Linked DNA regions of Homo sapiens: regions 2, 3, 4, 5 and 6 are each linked to region 1. The links come from fine-mapping of genetic effects on gene expression. A gene starts in region 1. Each other region holds a variant in brackets. All regions are shown on one strand. Distances are from middle to middle. Region 1 holds the start of TMEM71 (transmembrane protein 71). Region 2 overlaps PHF20L1 (PHD finger protein 20 like 1). Region 3 has its middle 22 kb from the start of DNAAF11. Region 4 overlaps TMEM71 (transmembrane protein 71). Region 5 overlaps DNAAF11 (dynein axonemal assembly factor 11). Region 6 overlaps TMEM71 (transmembrane protein 71).

What was found.
Region 2: its variant is fine-mapped to the expression of TMEM71 in whole blood (INTERVAL, PIP above 0.99).
Region 3: its variant is fine-mapped to the expression of TMEM71 in whole blood (TOPMed, PIP 0.93).
Region 4: its variant is fine-mapped to the expression of TMEM71 in whole blood (TOPMed, PIP above 0.99). The same link has a PIP of 0.9 or more in blood mononuclear cells.
Region 5: its variant is fine-mapped to the expression of TMEM71 in whole blood (INTERVAL, PIP above 0.99).
Region 6: its variant is fine-mapped to the expression of TMEM71 in whole blood (TOPMed, PIP above 0.99).

The regions. Positions count from the first base shown.
Region 1 is chr8:132,758,444-132,763,826 of GRCh38, reverse strand. TMEM71 (transmembrane protein 71) reads left to right here and starts at 3,245. Exons shown (of 10, transcript NM_001382403.1): 1 at 3,245-3,351; 2 at 4,912-4,987. The coding sequence starts at 4,948.
Region 2 is chr8:132,829,358-132,834,740 of GRCh38, reverse strand. It overlaps PHF20L1 (PHD finger protein 20 like 1), which reads right to left. Exons shown (of 21, transcript NM_016018.5): 15 at 2,342-2,506. Among named protein-coding and RNA genes, the nearest start is that of TG, 35 kb to the left of the region's middle. The variant C/T (reference allele first, on the strand shown) is at 2,443.
Region 3 is chr8:132,694,514-132,699,896 of GRCh38, reverse strand. It overlaps a transcript of DNAAF11 not described here. Among named protein-coding and RNA genes, the nearest start is that of DNAAF11, 22 kb to the right of the region's middle. The variant T/C (reference allele first, on the strand shown) is at 3,209.
Region 4 is chr8:132,718,044-132,723,238 of GRCh38, reverse strand. It overlaps TMEM71 (transmembrane protein 71), which reads left to right. Exons shown (of 10, transcript NM_001382403.1): 7 at 1,124-1,199. Among named protein-coding and RNA genes, the nearest start is that of TMEM71, 40 kb to the left of the region's middle. The variant C/T (reference allele first, on the strand shown) is at 2,340.
Region 5 is chr8:132,594,197-132,599,579 of GRCh38, reverse strand. The region is part of intron 10 of DNAAF11 (dynein axonemal assembly factor 11); the gene reads left to right. Among named protein-coding and RNA genes, the nearest start is that of HPYR1, 35 kb to the right of the region's middle. The variant C/T (reference allele first, on the strand shown) is at 2,220.
Region 6 is chr8:132,708,293-132,713,675 of GRCh38, reverse strand. TMEM71 (transmembrane protein 71) reads left to right here. Exons shown (of 10, transcript NM_001382403.1): 10 at 2,694-3,735. The coding sequence ends at 2,709. Among named protein-coding and RNA genes, the nearest start is that of DNAAF11, 35 kb to the right of the region's middle. The variant C/T (reference allele first, on the strand shown) is at 2,730.

The DNA.
Region 1 (5,383 bases):
TTTTGGCTTTACGTGGGAGCTGATATGAAACACTGTCTCCAATTCCCTCACTTCTGTAAGATCCTCTGTGATTCATTTGCAACACATGAACGTTTGCAACACATAGCTCTGGAACTGGGGTCTTGGGAGATATTATGTGACCAAAAGATTCTCAAGGCAAATAATTTTGACAGATGGTGAGACCATGTTTCCTGTGTATAGTAGCAAGTCCGAGTATCATTTAAAAGATTCTATAGTGACCTCTATTAGAGACCTATGCTTTCTAGAACTTTTTGTACTGAAATTTGCCACTCGTCTTTTCCCCATCCACACGCATCACCTCCATTAACAGTGGAGGACTGAATATTCTGTGGAACATGCTTTTAGAAACATTGATTTATAACATGCAGAATAAAGGTTCTGAAGGCAAGTCTACCTGGATGTAATTAATTTATTTGTTAATTCCACAAACATTAATTGATAACCTACTATATGGGAAGCACTACTCTTGATACTTGGGCTATTAAAATGAAGCAAAATGACAATATTCTCTGCTCTTTTAATGCTCATGTTCTGGCTGAGGAGTACGTTTCTTATTACAAGGAATGAATTGTGTGACATATTCCTTGGTAAAAAGTGCTAAGGAGAAGAATAAAGCAGGAAGAGACTAGGGAGTGGTGTGGAGGGCAATTAATTAGTAGCAAGGCAGTGGAGAAAAGAGCTGAGGGAGGGGAGGAAGAAAGCCCTGTGACCCTTAGGGTGAGGGAACACTAACCTCAAAGATCTTGAAGTAGACCCGTGTCTAGTGTATGAGAAACAAGAAGAAGATGAGTGGGTCTCAAGAGAGAAGATTGAGAGGGGAACCATAGGTTTGGAATTTAGTTCTGGCCATTGGCAATTTTGAAAGATTTATGCAAACTCTATAAACCTCTGTCCTGCATGTGGATAACAATTGCACTTATTTTCTAGGGCTACGTGAGGTTGAAACAAGATTACATATGTACAGTGTTTAGTGCAGTGCCTGGTTTGTAGAAAATGCTGACACACGTTGGATATGATCATTACACTTATAGGTTAAGAAAGCAAACTCGAGAGCCATCTCATCAGGGTTTGAATCCTAGCTCTACTTACTCATCACGTACTGGCTATGTGAATTTGGGCAACTCTCTAAACTCAGTTTGCTCTTCTGTAAAATGAGAATAATAATACAGCATCTCCCATGGAATTGATGTAACAATTAATGTGTTGATATGTGGAAAGACCTTAGAACAGTGCCTGGTACATAGTAAGCACTCCTTAAAGTTAGCAATTATTATGATCATTAATAATAAGGTTCTAATATGTGCCAGATCTTTAAAAAAAAAAAAAGTAGACCAAAGTCTTTCTGATGTGAGCTCTTCGGAAAAGTGGATTTGTGGGCACAGGAAGAGCAGAGGGTCTCGAATAAGTCAGAAAGATTTTCCTCCCTCATCTAGAAGAGATAAGCCAAGGCTGGAAGAGGGAGGATGAGGGATAAGAAAAACAGGAAAAGGAGAAGAAGAGAACTGTGAATTCCAGTAAAGAGAATACCAGACAGCTGTGAAGCAGAATAGCTGTCTGTTAAATTTAGGCAGATGTGACCAGGAGTAGCCTTGAGTAAATGTGACTATATTCTACAGGAGTCACTAAAGCAGCAGAGAGTCAGCAATGACAGATGGCTCAGGAAGTGACCTGTGTTAGGACTATGCATCTGCTATGTGTTGCTGTGTAACAAATTACCTCAAAACGTGGTGGCTTGAAATACCATTTGTCACTTCCCAGTTTGCGTGGGCCAGGGAGCTGGGCAGGGCTAGCCTGGGTTGTCTGCTTCTGGGTCTTTCCCAGTTCCAATCGAGCATTAGATGGGGCTGCAGTCAGCTCAAGGCTCAACTGGAGAAGGATCCACTTCCAAGCTCACACACTTGGTTTTTGGCTGGATTCCTGGCTGTTGGATGGAGCATCAGACCCTTACTGGCTTTTGAGACCACTCTTGATTCCTTGACACATGGGCTTCTCCACCATGGCAGCTTGCTTCATCAAAGCAGGCAAGCAAGAAAGTAATAGAGTCCAACAAGATGGAAGCCTCATCATGGTAGTGGAAACTCAGCACCTTTGCCTTACTTTATTTACAAGGAGCATGTCAGCAGCCTCAGTCTACACTCAAGGGATGGAGAATAGACATGAAGTTCCAGAGACAGAGAACTTTGAAATTAGATGGGCCCTCCTCCTGACAGTTCCTGCTGCCTAGAACATGTTCTACAGAAGATCCTGCCATGTGGCAGAACCTCAGGGGGAAAGGGAACCCCAGGAAAGGATGAGATTAACTTTTCCGCCAGCCGGACCAACTGGTGCCTCAGAAGAGAACTTGATTTAAGAAAACAAATAAAGAATACACCTTGCACATCTGTGCTGAGGACTCGATTATTTCTCATTTCTTTTATTTCATTTAATTCTTCAAGCCATCATATGACATATATATTTTTATGTTTATAATTGAGAAAACTGCAACTCAGAGGGGTAAGTCACAAATCTGAGGTCACACAGCTAGGATGGTAGACAGGTTGAATTTCTGTCTTGTGACCCCAGAATCCGCACTCTTTCCACTATGCAGTGGTACCTCAATGTTGCTGGAATATATATTTGAATGTACATTTCTTTTATCACTTACAGTAGTACAGATGTGTATGAACCCATAAACACCATCAAGTCTTTGAGCTCTACTATAATGTAAATGTAAAATGCCATCTATAGAGTTTTTTGTGAAGTCCAACCTTCATTAGATAAACCTATTGCCTCTATAGAAATTTTCATAAGATCAAGCTCTTGCTATTTAATAGTATTCTGAATTTAATAGCATCAGTGCATTATCCTCAATAAATTTAAGTGATTTGGACAAAGATCACTACTCTGCACTACTTATAACTGAATGTGGCCATATGATGAGCAAGAAATGTCAGTTCGCTGAGTCTTTCTCACGTTCTCGCAGCCAAAGGTGACAAGTTAGCTCAGAAAACCACCCCTCCAGTGACCAGGGTGTAACCAGCTGGCCTGACACATGGGCTGCACATTCCCTGCTGCTGGCCCAGGAAACTCTCTGAAATCTTCAGCACACTCCTCAGTGTGAATGCCACTGATGTGAGCCCAACAGGAAGTGTGACCTCATTCTGCTTCTTTGCCTCTGGTTACGCAGGCTGTTTTCAAAAGAAAACAAGAGAAGTTGTAAGACTGACTTTCCCAAGAACTATACACTCATTTATACCAGGAAACAGACAAGAGAACAAGAGGCTGCCGAAGACAAAACTTCTCTGCAAGCACCTGTGCACAGCAATGTGCGTGGGCATCTGTGAGAAGAAGGTAGGGTGGGATTCCCTTTATTAAGAGACTTCTGCACCTGTTGACATTCAGACATTTTTCAGCCGAGGAACTGCTCAGTCCTCAATTTTTCCACTGTCAACCACAGGAAGCTTCGTATTTCAGTAATAATTTTGTCCTTTGTCAATTGGAAGAAGAGGCTGGGAACTCCCTTTGGAAGGAACACGTATGCACACATTATTTTTCAGAATAGATGTGTCGCTTTGATGGAACTGGCAGATTCTGTTTCTTGAAAAGTTTTAGATCTGTAACTGAAGGGCTTTTTTTTTTCCTACTGTTACTAATTTTCTATTGAATGTCAGTGTACTGCCTGTAGATTCTTCTAAGCACTTGTGAGATAGAGCAATAAGACCTTCTTTTGCTGCAGGATTTATAGGCTTAAAATTAAGCTTAATACTTGGGGAACACTAAAATAAGGTAATTTGGGCTGGGCATACCCGTACAATATTGATCAAAAATGAAAAGAACAAGTAACATACTAATATATTACATTACACTGGGATTATTTTATATCCCAAACAAATGAAATTTGTAAATGTGTGCTTTGATTTAGAAATCTTCCAAGGAAGGCCAGAAAGTTCTCCTGACATCTTTACAGGTCTCTATAAACCAGGTTTATATTTTCCTAATAGGGTTTATATATAATTTATTGAAATATTCAACTTGAAGCTGTAGAATTAGCCTGGTTTGATTGATTGAATTACAGCTACAAAAACAATCCATTACTAGTTCTCATGTTACAAAATGTGGCCATAAGTGGTGAATCAGAAAATAATTTACTCCTACCTTATAAAGCGATTAGGATAGTGATACTATATACAAAGTTTCATAGTCAACAGAAGTTGGTTCTATTTGATGAACAGTAAATGATCAAAGTTTGCATAATTTACATACTTTGATATGTTTTTAATTAGTAATTGAGAAATTAAATCATGTCTTCATGGGAACTAAGTTCTAAAATCTTCCCAATGGTATGCTATCTTTAGTGCAACATTACTTATGCTGTTTAGGAATGTCCAGGCTGATAAAAACTATTAAAATCACTCTCTGTGACTACCTGTCAATGGTTCAAGTTGTTGGGAAAAAGACAGACACCAATCTCCAAGCACTGTTTGAAACTTGATAATGAAGTTGACTTGTGTCAGATGATTAAAATACACGTAAGTTTGTTTTGGGGCTAAATGACTGTTAGAACCAGTCATTTTATTAAGATTTCTTAATCAAATACCTCACTTTCATTATTTTCTTTGGATTACAAATCAACCTTTTTAAGTCTAGATTTTCCAAATAAAGTGTGGTTCTTATTTACAGAAAAATGTTATTGAGATGCACTGAGTGAGGCAATGGAAAATGTTCAGTCATAGAGGCAGACACAACTTTAGAGGGGTTGTGTCTTCAGTCTGGTCTCCTACCTTCAATTCTGTATCTCTGTATTATTTCAGTAAACAAATCTGACTAGTGCAATTAGTAGATGCCATCTGTTTTGGCATAATTTTTCTATTTTTAATATATAGTCCACCTTTTTTTTAACATCTTTTGCAGAGAATCTGTGAAGTTTGAGCAAGCGGCCTTCCCAAGATGTACCGAATATCTCAACTGATGTCAACACCAGTAGCAAGTAAATGTAGAAGAACTGTGATACGCAATTATCTTTTGAACGATTAGACTCCTTTTAGCAATTTCCTTGCTTTGATTTTGCTGATACTCAGACCATTAACCATCTGTCAGTAGCTTGTGCTTCTTAAATGCCAGTGTTCACTTTGGCAATGATTTTAACTTCATTTTTTTCCTTGAAAGAAATGTGGTATTTTTCCTTCTAGTAGAAAAAAAAAAATCACCGTTTTTTTTTAGATGCCTGTGCATAAATGTGAAAGGAGATTGTTTATCAGCTACTATTAAGATGCAAAACTGTTTGTATATAAAAAATGCTGAATGATTTTGATAGCTACTTGCAGAAAATAAGAGCGCTGTTAAAACGGTAGTGGTTTCAAGTTTCTTCCTTCCTCTTGTTATT
Region 2 (5,383 bases), 71 kb before region 1:
AATCTTGCTGGCTTAAATCCAAATTTTCTTTTGGGCTTTCTCAAGTTCATTGGAATGTGGGTAAAACAGTTTCAAACACTGTTGCAGCATATAAACAGTATTAAATGGGCCGGGCACAGCGGCTCACACCTCTAGTCCCAGCACTTTGGGAGGCCGTGGTGAGAGGATCACTTTAAGTTAGGAGTTTGAAACCAGCCTGTACAACAAAGCAAGCCCTCATCTCTACAAAAGCAAAAATAATTTGCTAGGCATGATGACCTGTGCTGGTAGTCTTAGCTACTCAGGAGGCTGAGGCAAGAGGATTGCTTGAGCCAAGGAGTTTGAGGCTGCAATGAACTACGATCACACCAGTATTTCAGCCTAGGCAACAGAGCAAGATCTTGCCTCAATAAATAAATAAATAAAAATTAATTTGAAATTATATCATTGAAAGGAATTAGTGTATCTCACATATACTTGCATGGCAAAGATTACCAGTTTTATGGTGTTAGCAAGCAAATTTATCATATTCTCCACAAATCTAGTTTGAATAACTCCCAAGCATTAAACTTATGCTTAGCTGAGTTTTGGAAGTTGAGTAAAATGGATGACAGAGCTGAAAGTTATGTAAGAAGCAAATAAAAGTTCCCCCTTACGCTTGAATAGCCACCTAGACAATGGCTCCAACTGAGTGGCCACAAGAACAGCTGTTGCCTTCCAGCAACTACCCCTTAAATTGTCATTGCTATTTCCTGAGACAGCATTTTGCAAGTGTGGTTTCCTGATCAGCAACATTTATCATCACCGGGGAACTTGCTGGAACTCAGAAATTCTGAGGGTGAGGCCCAGAAATGTGTTTTAACACACTCTCTGGGCAGTTCTGACACATGCTAACATTGAGAATTTCTGGCCTAAGGCCTTATTAATTTTCCTTTTCTTTCTCCTGACTTAGTACTTGATCATAAGGGCAGGGCAGAGACTAAGAACAGAGAGTACACATCTATGGCTCTTTTCATGCTCTTTCAAGGGTTCTTGTTTCAGCACCACAACTAGCCTAGATATAACCCCTATTCTCCATCTTTCTATAGCAAGAGATAATCTTCAGATCTTGATGATTCACAGTAAGGATGTTCTTAATGTGATTATCAACCTCTGCTTCTCCATAGCATCACCTAGAAGTTGTATCTTGCCAGGATCCTTCCAGAAATCTCATTCAATTGTGCCTCATGGTAGGATCCATGATCAGTATAGTTTAGAAGAACCGCAGCAATGATTGTAAGGTTCACCGGGGGTGAAGAACCACTGAACCATGGGAAAAAGTAGACTTGTATTTGCTGGAAAAGGGTGGTGGTAACTTCTTTTTTAATCCCCTCCCATACCTCAAGGTTCTAAAAATAAAATCTCACAAGTGTCATGAGCTATAAAGGAAAGAAAATGCTTTCTCCATAACGAGCCAGGGAGGACTTAGACCTGGAAGCAAACGGTGCAAAAGCAAACATTTAACCTAGTATCCACCATCGAGGTCAGTCAGAAGAAAGAAAAAGGGAGGAAGTGAGCTCACTCACAAGGATCCTAGGTTGTACTTATGCTGAAGGCCCCGTCCCTTATTCCTCACTCTCTGACTCTGGTTGCTATTGCATTAGAGCTCTACTCTTATGCCACAGCCCTCAATGTCTACAGCTGGGATCTCTGTGCCTATTGCTTACAATATTGGAAGCAAGGTAAGAGTCTTCAACACTTTCCACTGTCAGGACTGGACCTGCAGGAAAGTCTAACAGATTTGAACTCCAGTGCTCCCTTCACTGCTGACGTGGCCTTCTGACTACCTAAGGGCGCTTAGTTCCTGCCTGTGTTTAAATCAGTTGTCTGACTACATCTCAGGACTTTGGTTACAGATGTATCTGACCAGGAATTCAAAGTATACTTTTAAGATTACCATAAATGTTTATTTAAGAAAGCATTATCTACGGAGTTAAGACAGACCTTGGTTAGAGTTTTAATTCTAACACTAGCTAAGCCGAAAAGCTACTTACCCTGTAAGTTTCGGCTTGTTTATATATCAAATGTGAATAATACCTACTCTGTCAGTTGATAGTGAAGAATATAAAAATATATGTGCAAAAACCTACAGAAGTATATACACTAGTAATATTTTCCTTATGACTCTCTTCCACCAATAAGTATAAAGCCAATTTAACTTTATATAAATTAAAAAGTAGCTCAAATTTCTCACATCAAGACTTTCATATTAGTTTAGCTAACAAGTTTTTAAATCGCATGCTCTTAACAGAGTACGTTTTATTCTCAGTTACACATTTAGGAATTGTAAGTCTTGTTTTAACCATCACATGGTTACACATACTTTCACCACTAAGATCAACGGATAGAATTGCCCTTGGGTACTGATAGGTTGTAGTTTTCTCCGTAAACATGCTTCGTGAAGCCAGAGAACTCCCAGAAGAT[C/T]GAGTTAGTGGAGAAGAGCACCTTTCCAAAAATTCGAGGGAACTGTCTTCATAGTCTGAATAGTCTGCAACATAAGATACAGAAAGAAATATTAATAAAGTGTCAGATAATTAAGGTCACTATAAAAATAACGAAAGTCATGTTTCAGGATACACCAAATAATCATGCTACCACTTTCGCTTCTCATCCATGAAAAGCTACATATGGATCTGATGAACTGGGTTTAGCAAGAACACTTGGGAAACAAATATACCCCAGACAATATATACATAGTAGGGGGCACCAGGTTCTAACTGGTACCTGTAAACTTTTGTGAAGTACTATAGAGGTGAAAAAGGATTATTTCACATTTTCTCTCCATTATAATCACAACTATGTCTGCAGTAAAATATGCAAGATGACAACACATGGACACATGGGGAAGAACAACACACACTGGGGCCTGTGGGAAGTGGGGGAGAGCATCAGCAAGAACAGCTAATGCGTGCTGGGCTTAACACCTAGGTGATGGGTTGATCTGTGCAGCAAACCACCATGGCACACATTTACCTGTGTAACAAACCTGCACATCCTGTACATGTACCCCAGAACTTATTCGGTTGGTGCAAAAGTAATTGAGGTACTTTTGTACCAACCTAATAAAAGTTGAAGAGGAAAAAAAAAAGATATGCAAGATGGAAATTCACCTTTTTTCTTCCCCACAATTCGTAAAGAGGTTCTCCTGATGTCTGGCACACCAATTATACAGTGATAATCTGATCAATAAATTTTTCAAGTAATAAATCTCTGAAGGTAATTAACTAGTCCTGGAAGAACTCTGTAAAAATTCTGTTTTTCTCAGTTTTGTAATGAGTCCCACAGATGTGTGCAAGGGGAGAGGCCATATGCAGCTTACTGGAGAGTTGAGGGTATAGTAAGGGAAGGAAAAAAGGAGGTGGGGGTGTGATTCCAGGCATGTGGGAAGGCTCTGAAGCTGAAGAGTGCATGCCACATTTGGCAAGCTGTAAGACTGGCTGGAACACAGTGAATAAGGGAGAAACAAAGCTAGAGTGACAGGAGCCAGATTAGCTTTTTTTAAAAAGTTTTACCCTAATGCAATAAAAAGTCATTCAATGCTTATGTGGAGGAGGAGCAAGATGTGACAGTTTCATTTCCAGAGGATCACTCTAGCTGTGGAATGGAGGATGGAATGCAGGAAGGCACACATAGAAGTGGGGGGACAGTTCAGAGGCTACAGCAGTAGTCCAGGAAAGAAATGTTGGTGGCTCAGAACTTGGGTGATGGCAAATAAGGGGAAGATTTTAAGGAAGATGGAGTGCTGTTATAGACTGGAGGCCGAGAGCTAAGACGGCATTATCAAGATTGATTTCCAGGTTTATGCGTGAGCAACAAGGCAACAAAAGTGGGTATGAGATGGGGCTGAAGAGTAAATGCAAGGTGGAGAAACCAGAGAAGAAACAGAAGTTTAGAAGAGGGCTCTGTAAGATGGGAAATCTTACACATTACCTACATGAACCTTAAGATGTGGGAAAGGGGGATGGCAGTGGTGAGAAATGCTAGATTAAGAAAAGCAGACATTCCCTCCATTTTAATAGAGGCTAAGATGATGAATATTTTCATGTAAGCATGCAGATGTGGTAGATAGAGTATGAGCAAGTTCCCACCTGATGATGTCTGTCTTCTCAACTCTGTGAGGAAAAGGATGTCAAGTGACGCAGGTTAGGGAATACATGAGAGGTGGAAATGAGAGATGGAAACGAGTGGGAAAAAGGAAAGACAGAGAGTGGAAAAGTGAGCTTATAAGAGACGCATTGGTCTGTGCTAAGTATCCATTTGAAGGTGGCAGCTGTGGGAGACAGAATAGTCTGCCAAAAATGTCTATGTCCTAAACCCTAGAACTTTTAAATAAGCTAAGCTATGTGGAAAAGTGGAATTAAGGTTGCTAATCGGCTGACCTCACAACAGGGAGAGTATCCTGGATCATATGGGTGGGCCCAATGTAATGGCAAGGGTCCTTAAAAGTGAAAGGATGGAGGCAGAAGAGATGACGTGAGAGTGAAACAAGATGAGAAAGACTGGACCACTGCTGACTTTGAAGATGGGAGCAGGACAAGAGCCAAGCAATGCAGAAGCCTCTGGAAACTAGAAGAGGCAAGAAAACAGACTGTCCCTAAGAGCCTCCAGAGAAAAATGGAGCCCTGTTGATACCTTGGTTTTAACCTAGAGAGACCCATTTTGGACTCCTGACCTCCAGAACTTTAAGATAATAAATACATATTTTTTTAAACCACTGATGTGCAGTAATTTGCAACAGCAGCAATGGGAAACTTACACTCATCATCATAAATACCACGGCACAACCAACACTGATTGAGGGCTCTCTATGTGCCAAATGCAATTTTCAGTTCTTTATGTGTATTAACTCTTTTAATCCTCACAAGCATCTAATGAGGGAAGTAGGACTGCTAGTAAAGAATTGAGGCAAGACAGATGAAGCAAATTGCCCAAGAATATACAACTATCAATAGCAAAGCCAACATTCAAACCCAGGCAGCCTGACTATGGAAGCTACACTCTTAACAAATAAGTGATATCGGTGTATTTCAACATTTAAAGGGTGCACAAGCTGGCAAGCTTGTTAAACCCCAGATTCCTGGGCCTCATCTCCAGTGCACTGGGAATGAAACACTCCCAGATGATGCTGATGCTGTCAGATTACAGCAGTCTTTGGGCAGCACTACGCTATTCTGACTCCAGTGGCCTCACCATAACCACAGTTTGCCCAACACCATATTACTTAGGCCCAGACATGGAAAGGACATTTATTAAATGCCAGGTACTGTATCAAGTACTTTACAATGATTACTTTATTTAATTCGAATAATAAATCTATGCAATAAAACTATCAATTACCATTTATTTTAGAAGAAAGGAAACTGGG
Region 3 (5,383 bases), 64 kb after region 1:
TTATTTTGTCTATTTCATATAACTGGAATCATATGATATGTGACCTATTGCATTTGGTTTGTTTCACTTAACATAATGTTTGTATGTTTATCCGACTCACATCTTAGCATGTATTAGCACTTCTTTCCTTTCCATGGCTGAATAATAGTCCACTGTTTGGATATAACACATTTTGTTTATTCATTCATCCACTGGTGGATGTTTGGGTTATTACCACTTTTGGGGCTATTGTAAATGGTTGTGAAGTGCTCTTGAAAAAAAAAGAGTGAGTGAGTGAGTTTGGCAGGTAAGGAAAATGGGAAAGGATATTTGAAGGAAAGGGAGCAACTTATTCCAGGGCAGAGAAAGTTTTCTACCTGGCCTTCCCTCTTTTCACTCTTCCAGGCTGCAGTCTCCACACAGCAATTACAGTGATCTCTCTAAAGCTGACATCAGGCCACTTGGCTTCCTTGTTAATTACCCTCAATCCCACCTTACATTTCCTCTTGCTTAGTACATCACAGCGCCTAGCACTGCTCCCCTTTCTGTTCTTATAACATCACCAAGCTCAGCTCTACCTGAAGGCTTTGGCACTTGTAGGACACTCAGGCAGAAACATTCTTCTTTCTGAACTTCTCAGGGCCAACTTCCTCTCATCATGCAAATACCTCCCCCACAGAGAAGATGTCCCTAGCATCTTAGGGATGTTCTCCCTATTCAGGCACGCCACCCCTGGTCACACAACTATCTCATTATCAGAAATTATCATTCTTTTTTTTTTTTCTTTTTGAGACGGAGTTTCACTCTGTTGCCCAGGCTGGAGTGCAGTGGTGTGATCTCAGCTCACTGTAACTTCTGCCTCCTGGACTCAAGCAATTCTTCTGCCTCAGCTTCCCAAATAGCTGAGATTACAGGCATCTGCCATGGCGCCCGGCTAATTTTTTTTGTGTGTGTGTGTGTGTATATATATATATATATATGTATACATATATATATTTTAAGTAGAAACAGCGTTCGCCATGTTCACCAGGCTGGCCTTGAACTCCTGACTTCAGGTGATCAGCCCGCCTCGGCCTCCCAAGTGCTGGGATTACAGGTGTGCACCATCGTGCCCAGTCAGAAATTATCATTCTTATTCATTTGTGGTGTGTGATTTTTGTTGGTTTGGTTTGGTTCTTGGTTCCTCTCTGTTCTGCCCTATTTTTTTCACCAGAACAGAAGCTCCAGAAATAAGTAATTGCTTAAGGAGTGGATGGCTGGATATGACCCATTAGTGAACTGGCAAGGAATATATTGTGTCTGGTGCAGAGAAAGAGAGCTTCAGGTGGCATGGCATGTGGTGGAAATATTGACTGTGCCCAGATTATTCAAGATGCCCTCTTTATACCAGGCACATTGTAATTTAGCTTTAGAAATTCTCTGGTGTGATGATTTCACAGTACCAAAGGGAACTGAATGCTTGTCTATTATTTATGTTTCAGAGTCAGCATAGAAACCCTGGAAGAGAGTTGCCCCTGAGAAGCAGCTTTGCAAGGGGTGGCAGCTGGCTGGGAGGGGTCAGAAGATCTATGTTCTCTTGTAGTGCTGTGTGGTTTTGGGAAAATCATCTAACCTCTCTGAAATTCAGGTTTCTCGTTAGCACAAATGAAGAGTATATGAGGATAAGAGCTTTCCATGGTCTATTACGAAGTGTGGGATAGGTTTGTGCATACTTACTCTAGTCTCATGCTCAGAACACTCTGCCTTATGTTGTGCTGCGAGGTTGATAGGAATTATAGTTCCCATTTTACAGGTGAGGGTCCAAGAGGGTGAGTCACTTGCTTGAGGTCAATTGTCAACCACTGGAGGAGTCAAGGTGAGGTCTGCCTCCAAGTCCAGGATGTTTTCCACTTGTGCTTCCCTGCCTATCTCACAGGGGTGTTGTGATAATTAAAGACAAGTTATAAATACATACATTTTATTAATATTTTCTGTCCCATTCTTATTGTATCACTGGCCCTAGAAGTAAGATTGAGGTCCTCCTTGCTTCTCATTGCACCTACTGGATGATTATCCCCTCTTCTCCCCTAAAACCTCCAGTTTTGAAGCTCATGACACCAGACTGCACTATCTGCTGCTGCTTCTACGTGCAAATACTAACTCCTCATTTCTTGAAGACTTTAGCATCTCTCTCATTGTCAATCTCTCTAGTACGATTCCAGTCATTCTTGGTGAGCTCCACATACACATTGATGTCTCCTCTCATACTCTGGCCCATCAGTTTCTTTATTTTTATTTTTGGATTTTTTTTTTTTCTTTTTGAGATGGGGTCTCGCTCTGTCTCCCAGGCTGGGGTGCAGTGGCAAAATCTCAGCTCACTGCAACCTCTTCCTCCCAAGTTCAAGTGATTCTCCTTCCTCAGCCTCCCAAGCAGCGGGGATTACAGGTGCATGCCACCACACCCAGCTAATTTTTGTAATTTTAGTAGAGATGGGGTTTTGCCATCTTGGCTAGGCTGGTCTCAAACTCCTGACCTCAAGTGATCTGCCCACCTCGGCCTCCCAAAGTGCTGGGATTATTTTGGATATTTTTTAAAAACTGCTTTATTGAGTTATGATTTATACAAGGTAACATTCAGTTGTTTCAAGTATACAATTTAATGATTTTTAGTTTTACAGTTATGCAGGCATCACTGCAGTCCAACTTTAGAAAACTTATATCACCCCCAAAAAGATCCCTCTGCCATTTGCAGTCACTTGTCATTCCCATCCTTCAGCCCCAGGCTACTAACCACTAATCTACTAACAGTCTATAAAATTGCCTATTCTGGACATTTCATGTAAATGGAATCATGCAATATGCGGTCTTTGTGTTTTTAACTTTTTTAACTTTTATTTTAGGCTCAGGGGTACATGTGCAGGTTTGTTACATAGGTAAACTCATGTCATGTCATGGGGCTTTGTTGTACAGATTATTTTGTGTCCAGGTACTAAGCCTAGTACCCAACAGTTATTTTTTCTGCTCCTCTCCCTCCTCCCACCCTCTACCCTCAAGTGGCCTCAGTGTCTGCTGTTCCCCTCATTGGGTCCATGCGTTCTCATCATTTAGTTCCCACTTATCAGTGAGAACATGTGTTATTTGGTGTTCTGTTTCTGCATTCATTTGCTAAGAATAATGGCCTCCAGCTCCATTCAAGTTCTTGCAAAATACATGATCTCATTCTTTTTTATGGCTGCATAGTATTCCATGG[T/C]GTATATGCACCACATTTTCTTTACCCAATCTTGTCACTGATTTCATGTGGCATAATGTTTTCAAGGCATACCCATGCTGCAACATGAATCTCTACTTCATTACTTTTTATAGTAGAATAGTATTCTACTGTGTAAATATATCACATTTGTTTATCCATTCACCAATTGATGGACATTTTGGCTGTTTCTACCCTTTGGTTATGAAAAATGCTGCTATGAAATTCACATACATGACTTTATGAGATACCTAGGAATGAAATTGCTGGGTCATATGGTCAATTTGTGCTTAACTTAAAAAAAAATGCCAACTGCTTTTCAAAGTGAGTGTACTATTATGTATTCTCAGCCACAGCGTGTGATTGTTCCAGTTTCTCCACATCCTCTCCAATGCTTCATAATATCTATCTTTTCTATTCTAGCCAACTCTGAGTGGATGTGAAGTAGTATATTATTGTGGTTTTGATTTGTATTTCCCTGATGGATAATGATGTTGATTATCTTTTCATGTGCATTTTTCCTGGCAACCCACTTTCTCTGCTTCTTTCCTGCTTATAACTTTGTATCCTAACCCCAAGTTAGGCATATGCACTCACAGTCAAGCCTGGACCTTGTCATTCCCATAACTGCACCTCCCCCATGCCATCAATATCGAACATTCCACTTTTAACCATCACCATCTTTCCAGCTCATTCTTTCTCCCAATAATTTTTCAATGACTGGGATCAAATTCCACTGGTCCTGACACCTTTTCACTTATCCTCAATCATATATTCCTTTGTGTTCTTATTCAGCTTAGATTCCATGTGCTGTCAATAAAATCATTCCCTTGTATCTCTCTTCATTCATTGTACTTTCCGGGTTAAACTCTAATTCTGGTTGAATCGAATACTCTAACTATTATTCAGCTTCACCCACATGCTAAACATGCCTTGTGAAAAAAACACACATCCGGGCCTTTCTTTGAATTCATAACCACAGCCTCATGGTGTGTTTGGTGGTGCCTCGCAATCATCTTACTAAGTCCTATTAATTCACTCTCCCATTCCCCGGGTGATTATTTCATACTTATCCTCTCTCCTCAAAGCTTCAGTACCTCCTCGCCCAGTCTCATTCTTAGATGATGTCCTTCGTTTCTATTTTACTGAGAAAATAGAAACAATTATGAAGATACAGCTAGCTATTGCCACCTCATATATCCCACCTACGGGCATCTGTTCCTACTCTGCCTTCCTTCCTGTTTCTATAGAAGGAAAGTTCTTGCTGCTGTCTAAGGCCAATTTACCACTCATGCATTGCAGCCCACCCTCTCTTATCTACTTATAAAAATTGCTCCAGGAATTGTCCCCTCCCTCCTACAGCAGCAGCATGCCAGCGTGTTGTAATAATACCTGTCTTAAATAAGACCTCTTTTGATTCTTCGTTGCTTAGAACAATTCCCCTCCTCCATTCCTCTGCTTACAGTAGCAGCAAAATTCCTTGGTAGATTTGAGTTCTGTGCTTATTTGTCTCCATTTCTTCTCTTTCAAGTCTTTCTCAAACCCACCCCAATTAGGATTTGACTCCTACCGTCCATGCAAGTAGCCCATGTTAAAGACGTCAACAACCTTCAATGTTGTTAAATCCAATGGTCAGTTCTTAGTCCACATGTTGACTTGACCTAGCAGTATTTGAAGTAATGACTCCCTCCTTCTTAAAGCACTTTTCCCACTTGGCTTCTCAATTTACCAAACTCATTTTATATCTCTTTTGGTAATTCTTCCACATGTTTTCAGCATTTAAATTTTGGAGTATGCCAGACCTCTTCTCTGCCTAAACTCACTTCTAGAGTGGTGCCATCCATACTCACGATTGTAAACACCTCTGTAAACCATGACTCCTCCAACTAGATCTCCAGCCTGGACCTCTGTTTCTCATGCATATGCCAAAGTTAATTCTCAAAATTTCCATCTGGATGGCTAAGACATATCTCAAACTTGACATGTCCAAAATAGAGTTTGTAGTTCCCACTTCCTCCAAATCTGTCCCTCTACTGTCTTCACTATCTTAGTTAATGGCAGTGGCATCATTCAATTTTACAAATTAAAAATTTAGGATTCATCTTTGCCCTGTATTAGTTTGCTAGGGTTGCTGTAACAAAGTATTATAAACTGAGTGGCTTAAACAACAAAGCTGTA
Region 4 (5,195 bases), 40 kb after region 1:
AGTATTCAGTTGAACCCACAATAACTGAATTCACAATGTACATGAACAACTGTACATTTGCAGTGACATAATTTACTACTGTGATATTTTGAATTGCCAATCTTCAGCATTCCACCCGCATTATGGGCTAAGTAGGTTTTGTTAGCTGACTCAATCCTCATTCATGGCATAAATAGCAAAAATAAATGCATTCATAACATAAAGTCATTCCAAGTTTTAAACAACTGTTGCAAAATTGAGCTTTTGAAGCATTTGGCAAAAATTAAGTTGAGGTCTGTTTATATTCTCCTTTAGGTTTTTTATGTGGTAATCCTCAAATCAGCTTTAATTTATTTAAGGTGATTAGAATAATACTGAGGTTCATGATTGAATTAACTCTTATGCTTATAATTGCTGGATAATTTGTAGTTTCTACTGTGGCTTGGCAGTACTGAAATATTGTACTGATTGCAAAGAGTTTTCAAAGACAAATATTTCATAATATATGTTCTCATTTTTTGTCTTTAGAGACTTCCATTATGCAAAGTTGCAATTGTCTTTCCCTGCCCACTTCAGACAAAATGTTATGTTCTGTCTAGATGTGGTTTTTAAATCTTGGCTGTGACACCTCATAGCTATGTGACCTTGGACAAGTTCATCATTTCTCTTAGTCTTTTTCTTCTCTTTGCAGAACTAAGATAATGGCATCCACCTCACAGCGTTGTTGTGCTGTTTAAGTGAACTAACGTATACAAGCTCTTTGTGAATTATAAGGCACTTTACAGATTTTAGACATTATTATTATCACAATGACAGAATTAGATTTCTTACATTATCATAAACTCTACAAAGCCTTTCCCCAACATTAAATCAAAAGGCAAGCCCTAAACTGTGAAAATAGCATAGTCTTTTATTTTATAGTGATTGAAGAAAGTAATTATTTGCAGAAATTTTCTAATGACAGCCCTGTATAACAGTAGGTAATTTTATCTTGTTATTTATGACACATTGCTTGAACTGACATACATTCCAAAACTTTTTTTTTTTTTTGGTGGGTACAAGGGAAGTTTGAGATGATTTTTTCTTCCAAGATGATTGAATCAGCAATGATTTCTAATTTATTTGTTTTTGTTCTTCCTATTAGAAACCAGGTTGTTGCAAGAGGTCTTCTTTCAGGCAATCCTGCTTGCTGTGTGCTTAATCATTTCTGCATGTGCAAGGTAATTCACGTTTTATTTTCATGCAGCGGTATTTCATAATTAGTGAAACTATAGCTGATTGATGATTTCCTTGCCTTATTCCACAAAACATTTTAGGTAGCTCTGTGGTTGAGATTCGTTCATGTGTCTGTCCATGATAAGTTTCCCTTTATCTCTCATTGCCCACCTCTATCCTCTCACAAAGCATACAAAACCTAGAAAGTGGGCCAGGCACGGTGGCTCATGCCTGTAATCCGAGAACTTTGGGAGGCCAAGGTGGAAGGATCACCTGAGGTCAGCAGTTCGAGACCAGCCTGACCAACATGGTGAAAATTAAAAGTATGAAATTAGCCAGGCGTGGTGGCTCATGCCTGTAATGCCAGCTACTCAGGAGGCTGAGGCAGGAGAATTGCTTGAACCCGGGAGGCAGAGGTTGCAGTGAGCTGAGATCCCGCCATTGCACTCCAGCCTTGGCAACAAGAGCAAAGCTCTGCCAAAAAAAAAAAAAGACAAAAAAAAAAGAAAAAGAAAACCACCTAGAAAGCATACAAAACCCAGTGTACGTTGCTTAAAATTGTATTTTACAGTGGATTGCTTTTTCTCCAAAGAGAAGTGGCTCCTGTTAACAGATATACTCTAAGTATAGCTGGAGTTTAAAGCCACTTGAAGTTCCCACTGTGCGATTTAGGGTCCCTGCAGAGACTCCACCCTTCCCATTGTATTTGTATATCCCCACATAAATTGTCTCTTCATGCCTTCTTATAGGTATGTTTGTTCTCTACCCTCTGACCTGTATGTTCTTCCTCTGCCTTGTTTTCCTTTCCCTATTCAAGTCTCCAGGGCAGTGATCAGGTTCCTTGGTGCTAGGCCCACTCCTGTCTCAGGGCCTTTGCACTTGCTTTTCACTCTGCCTCTTAGAATCCTCCAGATAGCCTCATTACCTGTGACCTTACTTCTTTACAAAATCCGTTCAAATGTCACATCATCAGAGAGATCTTCCCTGAAAATCCTTTATAAATAGCATGCCACTCTTTGTCGCATGCACCTTGCTTTACTTTTCTTTTGAGCACTTATTACCCCCTGACCTGTGACATGATTAGCTGTTGAAGTTTTAATGGGATCTGCCTCTCCCTAGAAGAATGTGAGCTGCCTGACAGCAGA[C/T]ACATTGTGCGTCTCCCTCACTTCAGTATCCTCAGTGCCAGGGGTTCTTCAATATTTATTGAATCAATGAAACAAAGGTGAATACAACAGTCCAGGGGTCTTTATGGTTCTTGAACTCTGGCCAGCAAGGGCTGCCTGCTCTCGAGTCCCACATTTTGAGGGTCAAATACAGCAGCATCACTTGGAGGAGGTGCTTTTTTAAATACAAAGTCCTAGATCCCATCTCTTGAGATTCTAATTAAGATTTACTGAGAATTGGTAATTTAAAATAAGCTTCCCAGATAATTATGAGGTTTGCAAAACATTTTTAGATCACAATGGGACCACAAGAACAAAAGTGGAGTGTGTGTGTGTCGGAGGGGGTGCTTCTGTGGTTAAAAATAAATTTGCAAAATTCTGCATTCTATATCCCAAACTGGAAGACCATGATGTGCATTAGTATAATAATCAGTGAAATAATGTGGTGAAGGAACACGTCTAGCTTTATTTCACTTCGTGTTTTCCGCACCTCCAAGTTGATCGCAGAGCCCTTTCTTTTCTTTCACAGGACTGTAAATGGTATGTTTCTTAGGTTAATGTTTGTGGATACTCCTCCCTTAAGAGGCGGAGCTTAACTCTTAATCCTTTAAGGGAGGGCTGCATTTAGAAACTTCTTCCAGGGAGTAGAGTAAGGAAGGGGGTAAGAAAGGTAACTCTTCAGTGGAGAAACAGGACAAACACTGCTGCAAGTGAACAAGTCAGCATCAACAGAGATAAGTTACACTGATTGCATGTCCCCTTGATACGACGTGGTGAGAATGGCACTTTACCTCTGTGGTCTTCCACATCCCAGTCTGCCAAAAGAAAAATAGCAGAAAAAAAAAATTAAGGGACATTCAACACATTATCTGAGCAGGACTTTCCAAAACTGTCAAGGTCATCAAAACCAGGGAAAGTGACAAACTCTCAGAGCCCAGAGGAGCCTAGCAGACGCAATGACTAAACATATGTGGTGACCTGGATGGGATCCTGGAATAGAAAAAGGAAAAATCCAAATGAAGTGTAGAGTTGAGATCATAGTAATGTACCAGTGTTGGTACATTACCATGTTCCTTCATTGTGACAAACATACCACAGTAATAATAATAGAGGAAGCTGACTGGAGACCACATGAGAACCCTCTGTCCTAATTTTCTGATTTCTCTGCATATCTAAAATTATTCTAATAATGTTTATTTGAATTAAAAATTGACTAAAACTGTATAGACGTGGGCAAGAGCATGGATGTTTCTCATAGTAAGTGATAGGTGACAGACAGGAAAGTTGATATGTTTGCACATACAGGTTGAGTATGCCTCATACAGAATGCTTGGAACCAGAAGTATTTTGGATTTTGGACTTTTTGTACATTTGGGAAAATTTGCATATACATGATGAGACATCTTGAGGATGAGAATCAAATCTAAACAAAATTCCTTTATGTTTCATATACACACAGCCTAAAGGTAACTTTACACAATATTTTAGGGAATTTTCTGCACCTGTGGCATGAAGTCAGGTGTGGAAGTTTCCACTTGTGGCATCATGTAGACACTCAAAAAGTTTCAAACTTGGGGCATTTCAGATTTTGAATTTTTTATTTAGAGATGCTCAACCTGTGTATATAAAATTCAAGAAAAGGCAAGACAAATCAATTATTATAGATGTAAGAATAGTGATTAATTCCGAGGGTATATACTGAAAAGGACAACCAAGGAACCTTAAAGGGCGCGGGAAATATTCTATATCTTGATCTGGGTAGCAATTACAGGTGTTTATACAAAAAATCAAAATCAAGTTGTACACTTTATAGGCTTTGCTGTATTTATGTTAGAGCTCATTTTAGAATAACAGTTTTAAAATGCATATAAAGAGATTTCCAAAGGATATTCACCAGATTTTATTAATAACTTCTTCCATATGGTGGGATTTTTCTGATGATATTTTCTTTTCCTTTTTGTATTTATTCGTAATCTCTTTCAAATGATTCACATTTTGAAAATAAAAACAATAAAAATACTATTCTTTTTTGAAATAAATCTACTCAGTGACATCATCACCCATCATATTGGCAAAAATTCAAATGCTTGGTCACACTTTTTTGACAAGGTTGTGAAATAGCAGACATGCTCCATCATTGCTGTGAAATTTTTAACAATTTATTCTTAAAATCCCCAGGTAGGGGGGCTGGGCACGGTGGCTCACGCCTGTAGTCCCAGCACTTTGGGAGGTTGCGGCAGATGGATCACGAAGTCAGGAGATGGAGGCCATCCTGGCTAACACGGTGAAACCCCGTTTCTACTAAAAATATAAAAAATTAGCCAGGCGTGGTGGTGGGCACCTGTAGTCCCAGCTACTCGGGAGGCTGAGGCAGGAGAATGGTGTGAACCCGGGAGGTGGATCTTGCAGTGAGCCGAGATTGTGCCACTGCACTCCAGGCTGGGCAACAGAGCGAGACTCTGTCTCAAAAAAAAAAAAAAAAAGAGAAAATCCCCAGGTAGGGAGATTCCATAATGTCGACCAAGTTTAAAGTTACATATCTCCTTTGACCTGGCCAGGCCTTTTCAAATAATTTATTGTGTGAAATGACATATGTAAAATGCTATTCATTGCATTTTAAAAAATGCTATTCATTGTATTTTTAAACAGATTTTAAAAATTATTTTTAAGTGCACCTTTAGTGGTTTTAGTATATTTACAAAATTGTGCAACCATCACCACTCTAATTCTATAACAATTGCATCACTGAAAAAAGAAACCCTCTACCCATTAGCAGTTACTCTCCTTTCCTTCCTCTTCCACCTCCTGAAAACCACTAATGTACTTTCTGTCTCTGTG
Region 5 (5,383 bases), 160 kb after region 1:
TCATGGTGGATAAGCTTTTTGATGTGCTGCTGGATTCGGTTTGCCAGTATTTTTTTGAGGATTTTTGCACCGATGTTCATCAGGGATATTGGCCTGAAACTCTTTTTTGTTGTTGTGTCTCTGCCAGGCTTTGGTATCAGGATGATGCTGGCCTCATAAAATGAGTTAGGGAGTATTCTGTCTTTTTCTATTGATTGGAATAGTTTCAGAAGGAATGGTACCAGCTCCTCTTTGTACCTCTGGTAGAATTTGGCTGTGAATCTTTCTGGTCCTGGACTTTTTTTGGTTGGTAGGCTATTAATTATTGCCTCAATTTCAGAGCCTGTTATTGGTCCATTCAGGGATTCAACTTCTTCCTGGTTTAGTCTTGGGGTGGTGTATATGTCCAGGAATTCATCCATTTCTTCTAGATTTTCTAGTTTATTTGCGTAGAGGTGTTTATAGTATTCTCTGATGGTAGTTTGTATTTCTGTGGGATCGGTGGTGATATCCCCTTTATCATCCTTTATTGCATCTATTTGATTCTTCTCTCTTTTCTTCTGTATTAGTGTTGCTAGCGGTCTATCAATGTTGTTGATCTTTTCAAAAAACCAGCTCCTGGATTCATTGATTTTTTGAAGGGTTTTTTGTGTTTCTGTCTCCTTCAGTTCTGCTCTGATCTTAGTTATTTCTCGCCTTCTGCTAGCTTTTGAATGCATTTGCTCTTGCTTCTCTAGTTCTTTTAATTGTGATGTTAGGGTGTCAATTTTAGATCTTCCTGCTTTCTCTTGTGGGCATTCAGTGCTATAAATTTCCCTCTACACACTGCTTTAAATGTGTCCCACAGATTCTGGTATGTTGTGTCTTTGTTCTCATTGGTTTCAAAGAACATCTTTATTTCTAGCAGAGATAATATTTAAAGAGATAATGGCTAACTGCAGGATTTATACTTAGGGTTTTTACATGTATACCCACTGCACAAACTGAAAACATTTTATATACCTTCAGTCTGGGAGATATTGTGCTATACTTTTTATGAATAGAAAAATAAAATTGGCTTGGCCCCTGCCCTGAAAGACTTTACCACCTACATTCATATATCTACAATTATGACTATTTAGCAAAAATTGTATATGCTCTGTGATAAACAGTTTAAACAACTCACTTTCTGCAATAACCCTGTAACCTGGGGATTTTTATTATCCAGATTATTTAATGAGGCTTGCTGAGGTTATATACATTTCCCAAGGTCATAATTTAATAAATAGATGTGTCATGTCATAGAAAACACTAGATTGGGGTCATTAGTTCTCTTCTTTCAGAATCCTGTAATAAATGTGATAAGTAGACACACCATTTAGGCTCTTGCTTTTATCCTTATACCAGTTAATAATAACGACAAAGACATAGCTACTATTTATTGAGCATTTACCATGTGCCACACACAGTGTTGAATACTTTGAACATCTTATGGAGTAGGGGTGATTATCATTTTGCAGAAGAGGAAATGAAATTCTGATGTTGCCTTAAATCATAGGGTATGTTTCCAAATGAACACAAACAATGCCTCATAATTTTCATCTACAGCCAGATTACTTTTGGATCATTAGCAGCTTAATATAGTAAAGTGCTTCACCTTTAAAATTTTGTTCCCAATATTTCTACTCTAAAATAAGGAAGTGGTTTAGGATATTTCATGAGTATCAGTATCTTAGCAGTCTTTATTCTCCTGTGAAATTCCCCCCCAACCCCACTAAGAAAATTGTTGAGGATCAAAAGTAGATACAATGAAATGTATCCTTTCTTCCATGATTCCTCATACCACTTTAATTGGAAGATAACCTGCATAGTTACCCAGCTTGTTGTCAACTGGGGACAAGGAAATACACATTATTTGCAGATAATTGTTTTCTTCAAGGTTATAGAGAAGCCTCTTTTCCAAATCATGGGCATCCTCTCTAAAACCTTGCCTGGCATCCTCCCAGACCAAGGGGTTGTCTTTTCTCTTTTCTGTGTTTCCTGGAAGTGAAATAAACAAATGTCACTTAAATAATGAAATCTATTGCTGCCAACTTCATACATTCTTGTCAAAATAAACATATAGTAGATACCAGATGAAGGTCAGGCCCTAGCTGCTCAGAAGGTAAGTCAGATCTCACCAGGAGCTCCCTGCACAGCTGACCTTGATCCAAGAATGGAATCAGCTTTGCGGGCACTGGAAACTCACAGGCCTCCCGTTG[C/T]GAGGTGAGGCTCCTAGGTATGAGGGAGAAGGCTCCTCAGGGCTACACACAGGGCAGGTGGTGCTCTCAAGAATGGCAGTGCTCGGTGGGCTCTGGGGAACAGCCACGTCTTGAAACAGACCCATCAACTGCATCTTTCTTGTATTCTTTATATCCATGAATCTGTATATGGTTATTTTAAAAATAAAATAAGAGGTGACCCAAGGCTAGCTCTCCACTGGTCAAGTGATGTCTCTGTCCCTGACTGCAAAGGCTCCAAACACAGTCTTTCTGTGACTTGGTTTCATAGCTTCTGCAGAACTGCAAAGTTGCCACTTAAAATGGGCTTTGTCCCTTTTTCCCATTGGCCAGTTGGGGTGGATGACAGGTCATTCTTCTAATTGCCAGCAATGAGGAGGAAAACATAAGACAACATCAGACAACAATTCAAGACAACTGGGAGAAGCCATAGACTGTGGCAATTCCCTGCACAGCTGTCCCTAGTCGGACAGATCTCATCACAGTCCCTTCGAGGCTGGGAACCAGGCTGATGCCCCCATCACTCTGGATCCTTACAGGGGGCAACAGGAGAGGGAGTGTCGCTCTTTGTTTTATTCCAGTGTTCCTGATATTGAAGCTTTCTCCTAGGCAGTGAGGCTAAAGTAGCCTAGGCAAGTCAGCCTGGTTATTTGCTCACTTTATCACCTACTGTGAACACCACTACTGTGAGTGGGAGGAGCCTCAGGTCCTGGGTACTTAGCCTGCAGGTCAGACAGAAGGGTTGAATTCAGGATGTCATTTTTTTCCTAAGGCACAAAACCCTCTCCAGCATGTTTAGAGACTGTCTCTAGCAAGATTGTAAAAGAAAATTTTATTTTCATTTTATATATTATTCTCAGTCTTAATGTTTGTCCTAACTTAATAAAATATTTTCAGTTTTAGACTGCAATGTGTGGATGATCTTCTATGGGGAACTGTCAGAAGAGTGACCTTCCAAGTAGAAAATAATTTTGAAGGAATCAGTTGATAGTTAGATTTGCTCTCTGGTTACTCAAGGCCACATAACTGCCTTATGTAACTGTCAGTGTTGATTTTACATATACATATCAGTAACTACATCTTTAAAAATTTTCCTCATAATATAAATATTAGCAAATTATTGGCCTGAGAATCAATGACATTTTGTATGCACCTGCCAATTGACGGGCCACATGAATTCATGGTCAGCATGGACTTCCTATCCTGCTATCTTGCTGATATCCAGCCTCAATAATTTAAAATAGCCAAATGAACCCATGATTTCCTTCTGCAGACCTGCTCCTCCCATAGTCATCCTTGTCTCAGAAAATGGCGCCATCAACTGATACACAGTTGTTCAAGTCAATGATTAGGAGGCATGCTTAACTACATCTTGCGGGTACCACTACTGAAATACATCCTGAATTCAGTTTCTTAACACCACCTCCCACCATCACCTCCCATCAAGCCAGTGTCCTCCCCCAACTGGACTACCTTGGACAGCCTTCTCACGGTTTGCCCTGCTCTATTCTTTCCCCTCTTTGATACTTTCTCCATAGAGAAGCCAGAATGCCCTTTTATTTACTTTTTCGTTTATAGTTGTGTTTTAAAATATTTTTTCTTTCCTATTATGAAATTATGACTGTAGAAATAGAACACAATGTAAAGAAAAAAATAACTCATGGTCCCACTATCTGGATAAACATTTTGTTTTGTTTCTTTTCAGTCTTTTGTCTGTGCTCAGGTGTAATTATTTCAACGTGGTTGTTATTTATTTTTTTTAAAGAAGTAAATTTTGCAAAATAAAAATATACATCTTGCAAATAATAGCTTTATTCCCGTGTTGAAACCTACCAATGGCTTTCCATGGCACTTGAAATATATTCAGACTTCTTGTTGTGGCCCAGAAGGCTGTGTACAAGGTAGTTTCTGCCTATGTTTCTGATACCTTCTTCCACTTTTCTCCTCTCATATTCTGGACACAGCTTTTTTTTTTTTTTTTTTTTTTTTTTTTTCCCCTCTGTCTCTCTCTCTTTCGGGAACACAAAAAATTCCAAAAAGGTTCTGAAACACAGGAAATTCCTATAAGGTTCTGGAATACAGAAGGTTCCAATAAGTTTCTGGAACCTTGTTCCCACCGGCAGGACTTTTGTGTTTTCTGTGCTTTTTCTGCCAAGAGCATTTCTGCCCCTTTCTCTGTTTACATCTGTATTAGTCTGTTTTCACACTGCTATAAATAAATACCCAAGACTGGGTAATTTATAAAGGAAAGAGGTTTAATTGACTCACAGTTCCACATAGCTGGGGAGACCTCCAGATCATGGTGGAAGGTGAAGGGGAAGCAAACGTGGACCGTGGCAGCAGGACAGTGTGTGAGGGAGCCAGAAAGACTACCATTTATCAAACCATCAGATCTCGTGAGAATTCACTCATTATCACAAGAACATCATGGGGGAAACCACCCCCATTCTTGGTACCAATTTCCTTTGTTAGTCCGTTCTCACACTGCTATAAAGAACTGCCCCAGACTGGGTAATTTATAAGGAAAAGAGGTTTAATTGACTCAAAGTTCTGCATGGCTTGGGAGGCCTCAGGAAACTTACACTCATGGTGGACGGGGAAGCAGGCACATCTTACATGACAGCAGGTGAGAGAGCCTGTGAAGGAAGTGAAGAGGGAAGAGCCCCTTATAAAACCATCAGGTCTCCTGAGAACTCCCTCACTATGAAGAGAACAGCATGGGGGAAACTGCCCCCATGATCTAATCACATCCCTCCCTCCACACAGGGGGATTACAGGTCCCTCCTTGACACATGGTGATTACAATTCCAGATGATATTTGGGTGGGGACACAGAGTCAAACCATATCAACATCTGTCTCCTTTGTATTATGCAGGTTTGGGCTCAAATGTTACATTTTTAGAAGGACTTTTCTTTTTAATACCAGAGCTAATATAGCCAGTCACAATCTCTATAAGTCACAGTCATCTTTCTCAGCCATATTACTTGGTTTATTTGATCACAGTATTGATTACTGTATGAAATGGCCTTATTTGTTAAATTTTGTATGATTTGTCTTTACCTATCTAAATGTGGGGATTATGAGAGTAGAGACCTTGATTCAGCCAATGACTGGAATAGTACTTGCCTTCTGGTAAATAAATATT
Region 6 (5,383 bases), 50 kb after region 1:
AGACGTTCCCAAATAGCTGGCAAACTGCCCATGAAATGATCTCAGTTACAAACTGTGATTTCTGTGCCTTCTCTTATTCATTTAATGATCCCCTTGTGTGTTAACTGCCATGGTTCAGCATATTTCAAAGGGTTACTGGGGTCTGGTTGGGATGCCCATAGAATTTCAAACAGTCTGGATAGCACCATCCTATTGCACGATGGACTGTGTTAATTACCTTCACTTCAATATGGCTGCCAGAGGCAAACTCACATGGCTTGGAGACTGAGGTCTGTAATTCACCATGGCACTCTTACAAAATCTGCGCTAATTCTGAAATCACAATGGGGTTTAGTGAAAATTTATTTTGGTTAGGATTCTAGCCAATATTGACTTACTGACATTTTGAGTGATGCTTCCCATAATTTCTGGGTATTTCTGGTTTCTGGGGGTGCACATACAGCTAAGTTTTATTCAACCTGATATTTAGAAAATCGAATCTCTGGGTAGCTCAAGAAATCCTTATAATTTAGCCCTTGAAATTAATGACAAGGCTGGGTGTGGTGGCTCACACCTGTAATCTCAGCACTTTGGGAAGCTGAGGCAGGAGACTTCCTTGAGTCCAGGAGTTCTAGACCAGCCTGAGCAACATAGTGAGACCTACGAAAAATAGACAAAATTAGCTGGGTGTGCTGATGCGCACCTGCAGTTGCAGCTACTGGGGAGACTAAGATGGAGGAATTGCTTGAGCCTGGGAGGTGGAGGCTGCAGTGAGCTGTGATTGTGCCCATGCCACTGCACTTCAGCCTGGGCTACAGAGAGAGAATTTGTCTTAAAAACAAAAAGAAAAAGAAAAAAGAAAAAAGAAAAAGGAGTTAATGACATTTGTTTAAAACAATTATTGATTTCTAAAGTGGCACCACCTAAGTTACCAAATCTTTATTAAGAATTTACAATATGTTCTATACGGTATGGGGTACCAAGTTTAGCTCAGTTGCTGTTAATGAAGTGTCTACCATGGGTTAGACACAGTCACTAGGTACCAGGGTGTGAATGCCCCAGCATGTGGCTGGCTTTGAGATTTTATCATCTCATTAGAGTAAAGGACTTGTAAGGGGCAAGGTGAAGTTGCCTTTTAATATGGTAAGTGCAAATATCAGGTTAGTACAGGAGCCAGGGGGAGCACAAGGAGGTCAGTTTCCCAGACTAAGAGGAGTGGGGAGTATGTTCAGGGAGGGCCTCCTGGAAGAGCCAATATCCGATCTGCAGGGGTTATATCACCTGCTGTTTTCTCAGAACTTCCCATTGTTCTGAGCTCATTGTTTGTTCTCTCCCAAAAGAAATTACATCAGGACAATATTTCTATCCTGAACAAACACTTTTATCTTCTGACTCATTTATGGAAGGAGATCCTTTCTTTGATTATTTGTGTACATACTTTGACTTGTTCTTCTCTTGTTCCCAACTCCATTTTTTCCTGTTTCCTGCCCACCAGCCTCATATACACACACATTTGCATTTAAGACCTGTGAAAACAAGGACTATTGACTTCATTTTTGTATCTACAACCAAAGCCTTGAAAATAGTATGTACTCTGTACATATTCATTAAATTTAATGTATTTACTGCATCATTTCTTGAAGTACTTCCTTGAAAGCCAAGAGCTCTGCGTGTATATTAAAGATTTTGCAACCCTCTCCTTCTTATATAAACATACCGAGAAACTAATAAACCAAAGATATGGTTATTAATATCGAGAATCAAGAATGACTCATAAGTCTCCTCTAACAATCAATGATGAGAATCTAAGGAACTGAATTCAGTTCAACAAATATTAATGCAGCACCCTCCCCCCAACACACACACCCATCCTGCACTGTGCAAGTTAGATTAGATTAGGTGCCTCTTTAGCACCTCACACGGCTCACATCATATCCCTTTTCATAACATAATGAAATTCTTAGTCAACTGCTTTCCTGATTAAATTTAAAGCCTGTGAAGATAGGGACTATCTGTCTTGTCCACCACTGGCCTGAGTGTCCCTTGCAAATGAAGGTCAGCACAGGTATCTCATGTTAGTAATGATGTGTTAGCATCAGCGGTACACGTTTTGCACACTTATGATTTCATAGTAACAAAATGGGTCACATCTGTTCTCTCTTAAATGAAGGAATGTATGTTCGTATACTTAATGAATGAGTGAATAAACTTTAGGGAATAAAAATATGGGGAAAATCCACCTGTTACCCTACAGGCTGTTCTACGGGGCAGGAGAGAGCAATTTTCTGGAAGGTGTATTCTTTTGAGCCATTTTCTTTACCAAGTTTTTAATCTTCTTGAGGATCATGATTACCTTTCACTTAAAGTGCAATTAAAATACTGATATAATACAGAAAAATGCCATAAGGGCAGGTGGGAAGAGGAAACCATAGGAAATATTAGTTAACTAAGTACCACGCTGGGCTGAGGGGTCAAAACCTCTATAGTCTTTCAGACAAAAAGGAGAGCACTAAGAACTGCTGGGATAAAAGCAAAAACGAAAAGTACCCTTAGTTGAGGCTGCACTCTTCCTAGTTGTGATAATTCAGGCCCGTTGTGGGTATGGGTGTGGGTGTGTGCTTATATATGCGCAAATGGGTATGCAGTGATTAGATACTGCATTTCCTGTGCATGGGGATGAATTATGCATTTCTTTTCTTATTTCTCCAATCTAGGTTTGTCAAAATTTGACAACCATTTAGGAATGCCTT[C/T]GATGAATGTCCTCCATCTGAATATCTGGAAATTGTCCAACTTGCAGTCTACTTGGAATCAAGTGTTTTATTGGAAGGGAGTAAGCGAGTAATGGAGAAAAAGCCATTTTAGTTTGACTATGTGATTTTAAAATGATCTCAGTTTTTCCATCAAAATTATAATATGCTCATGAAAATAATATTAATTTGCCTTCCCTTTGCAAACACCGGCAGTTGAAAGGAAAAGGACGGGGAATGTGATGGAAAAGAGACCGCCTGGAATAAATGTCCCCCTATGATTCTTTAAGGCAGTGGTTCTCGAGCTTGAATTTTCATTAGGAAATTCTGTGAGGAGCTTGTAACCAGATTTCTGGGTCTGCCACATGCACCTATCTCTTGCTGAATTGCTTTAATAGAATAATGAGAGCAAGTTTGTCTAACTAATACCAACCTGACAACTTGAATAACAATAAATGCAATTTGTACATAAAATATAATGCTGCAAAAGTTTGTCATTCACCTCAGTGGAGTGACTTGATATTAGGTGGTAACCGTAGATGATGGTTAATATGAAAATGGACAGGAAAGAAGCATTTTCTGAAAGTTATATTCTTTTGAACCACGTTCTAAACCAAGTTTTTAATCTTCTTGGGGCTCGTAATTACCTTTCACTTTAATGTCACTTAAAGATATAACACAGAAAAATGCCTTGAGGGCAAAATATAGGCAAAACACCAATGCGCTTTCAAATGCATGAAAATGGTGCAGTTGTACCCTTGAGCCTTGACTCAAGGGCTGTAGATGTTCCCTTTCCACCCCCCACACTTGGTGCGTGTTCACAAAGCAAATATGGCCTGTAATTCAAATTTGTTCTATGTGATACTCTCTGAGTAAAAACTCATACATGCAGAAAATTGTCTTTGCTCGAAATGATAATGCCAAAATATAACTTTATATATAATTTGCATTTAGTACATTTTTGGTTAAAAAATAAACTAATAAATAAGTGAAGTCATCAGCAAATTTATATTTGTGTGTGTGTATATATATATGTATATATATATTTTTTTGAGAAATCATGGCAGAACATCATTCATTGAAGACTGTATTATTTCCCTATTGCTGCCTTAACAAATTACCCTAAACCAAGTGGCTTACGGCAACACAAAGTTATTGTTTTACAGTTCTGGAGCTCAGAAGTCTAAAATAAAGGTCAGCAGAGTTATTTTCCCTCTGGAGGCTTTAGGGAAAAATCTATTTCCTTGCCTTTTTTAGCTTCCAGTGGCTGTCTGTATTCCTTGGCTTGTGGCCCCCTCCTCCACCTCCAAAGCACACCACTCTGATTTCTTACTTCCATCATTACATCACCTTCTCCTCTTCTGCAGTAAAATCTCCCTCTACCTCCCTCTTTAAAGGACACTTGAGACTACATTTAGGATCCACTCTGATAATCCAAGATAAAATCTTTGACTTAATGACACCTTCAAGGCCCCTATTTTCATATAAGGTAACATTGATGGGTTCCTATGATTAGAACCTGGCTATTTTGGGGGACCATTAGTAAGCTTACCACAGTTGTATTTGAAATAGCCTCGTGTAATAATTTAGTAGGTCTGGGATATGTCCCATGCCTTTGCCATTTTTACAAGTAGGTTAAGTGATCACAAAGTGATCCACAATCCACGTGCATGAATGCTTTGAAGTGGGATTTAAAATGAATTTAATGGAGAACTAAATGCATATGGAGCCTTTCATTTAATACACTATTAGGAGAACTTCCATTGAGAATTTCTACATTTCCTTTGTCTATGTGTAACACACATTTTTCTACAGAGTCATTTGATTTAAATGATAATGTTTTTCAAAGTAAGATACTGAAATAGTACTAACTGTTTACGTGCATATAATGCTTCATTGTTGACAAGGACATTTTCTCCCCGGCTGTATAAGCTTACTATGGCTACAGTAACAAGTTACCACAGATTTGGTGGCTTAAAACAATGCAAATTTATTATCTTACAGTTTTGGGGGTCAGTCCAAAATGAGCCTTACAAGGGTAAAACCTAGAGACTGCTTGCATTCCCTGGCCCCTGGCCCCCTCCTCCATCTTCAAACCACTTCACTCTAGCCTCTGCTTCTGTGGTCACATCTCCTTTTCTGACTTTAGACATCTTGCCTCCTTCTTTAAATAATTTTTGTAATTACATGGGGCCCACCCAGATAATCCAGAATAATCTTTCCATTTTAAAATCCTTAACTTCATCCCATTTACAAAGTCCTTTTGCCACATAAGGTAATCTAGTCATAGGTTCCAGAGTTCTGGAATGCAGATATCTTCCAGGACCCAATGGCTAAGGCCTTCCCCAGTGAAAGCTTCAGATGAGAGGCCGGTGCAGGACAACACCTTCTTTACAACCTTGCAGAGGACGCAGTTAAAGACCTCTGCAGAAACTGAGATTAATGTGTGTTCTAAGCTGCTAAGCTTGTGCTAATGTCATTACATGGTGATAGATAATGAACACAACATCCACTGATTCTCCTCCAAGTGTATAAAGTGTGTTGCTGTGCAAAATGACTTTAGGACATGTCCCCTAGCAGTGGGCTCCAGCCAGATGGTTGCTCTTGAGCCCCACTACTTGGAGTGGAGAGTATAACCTTAATATCCTGCAGATCCA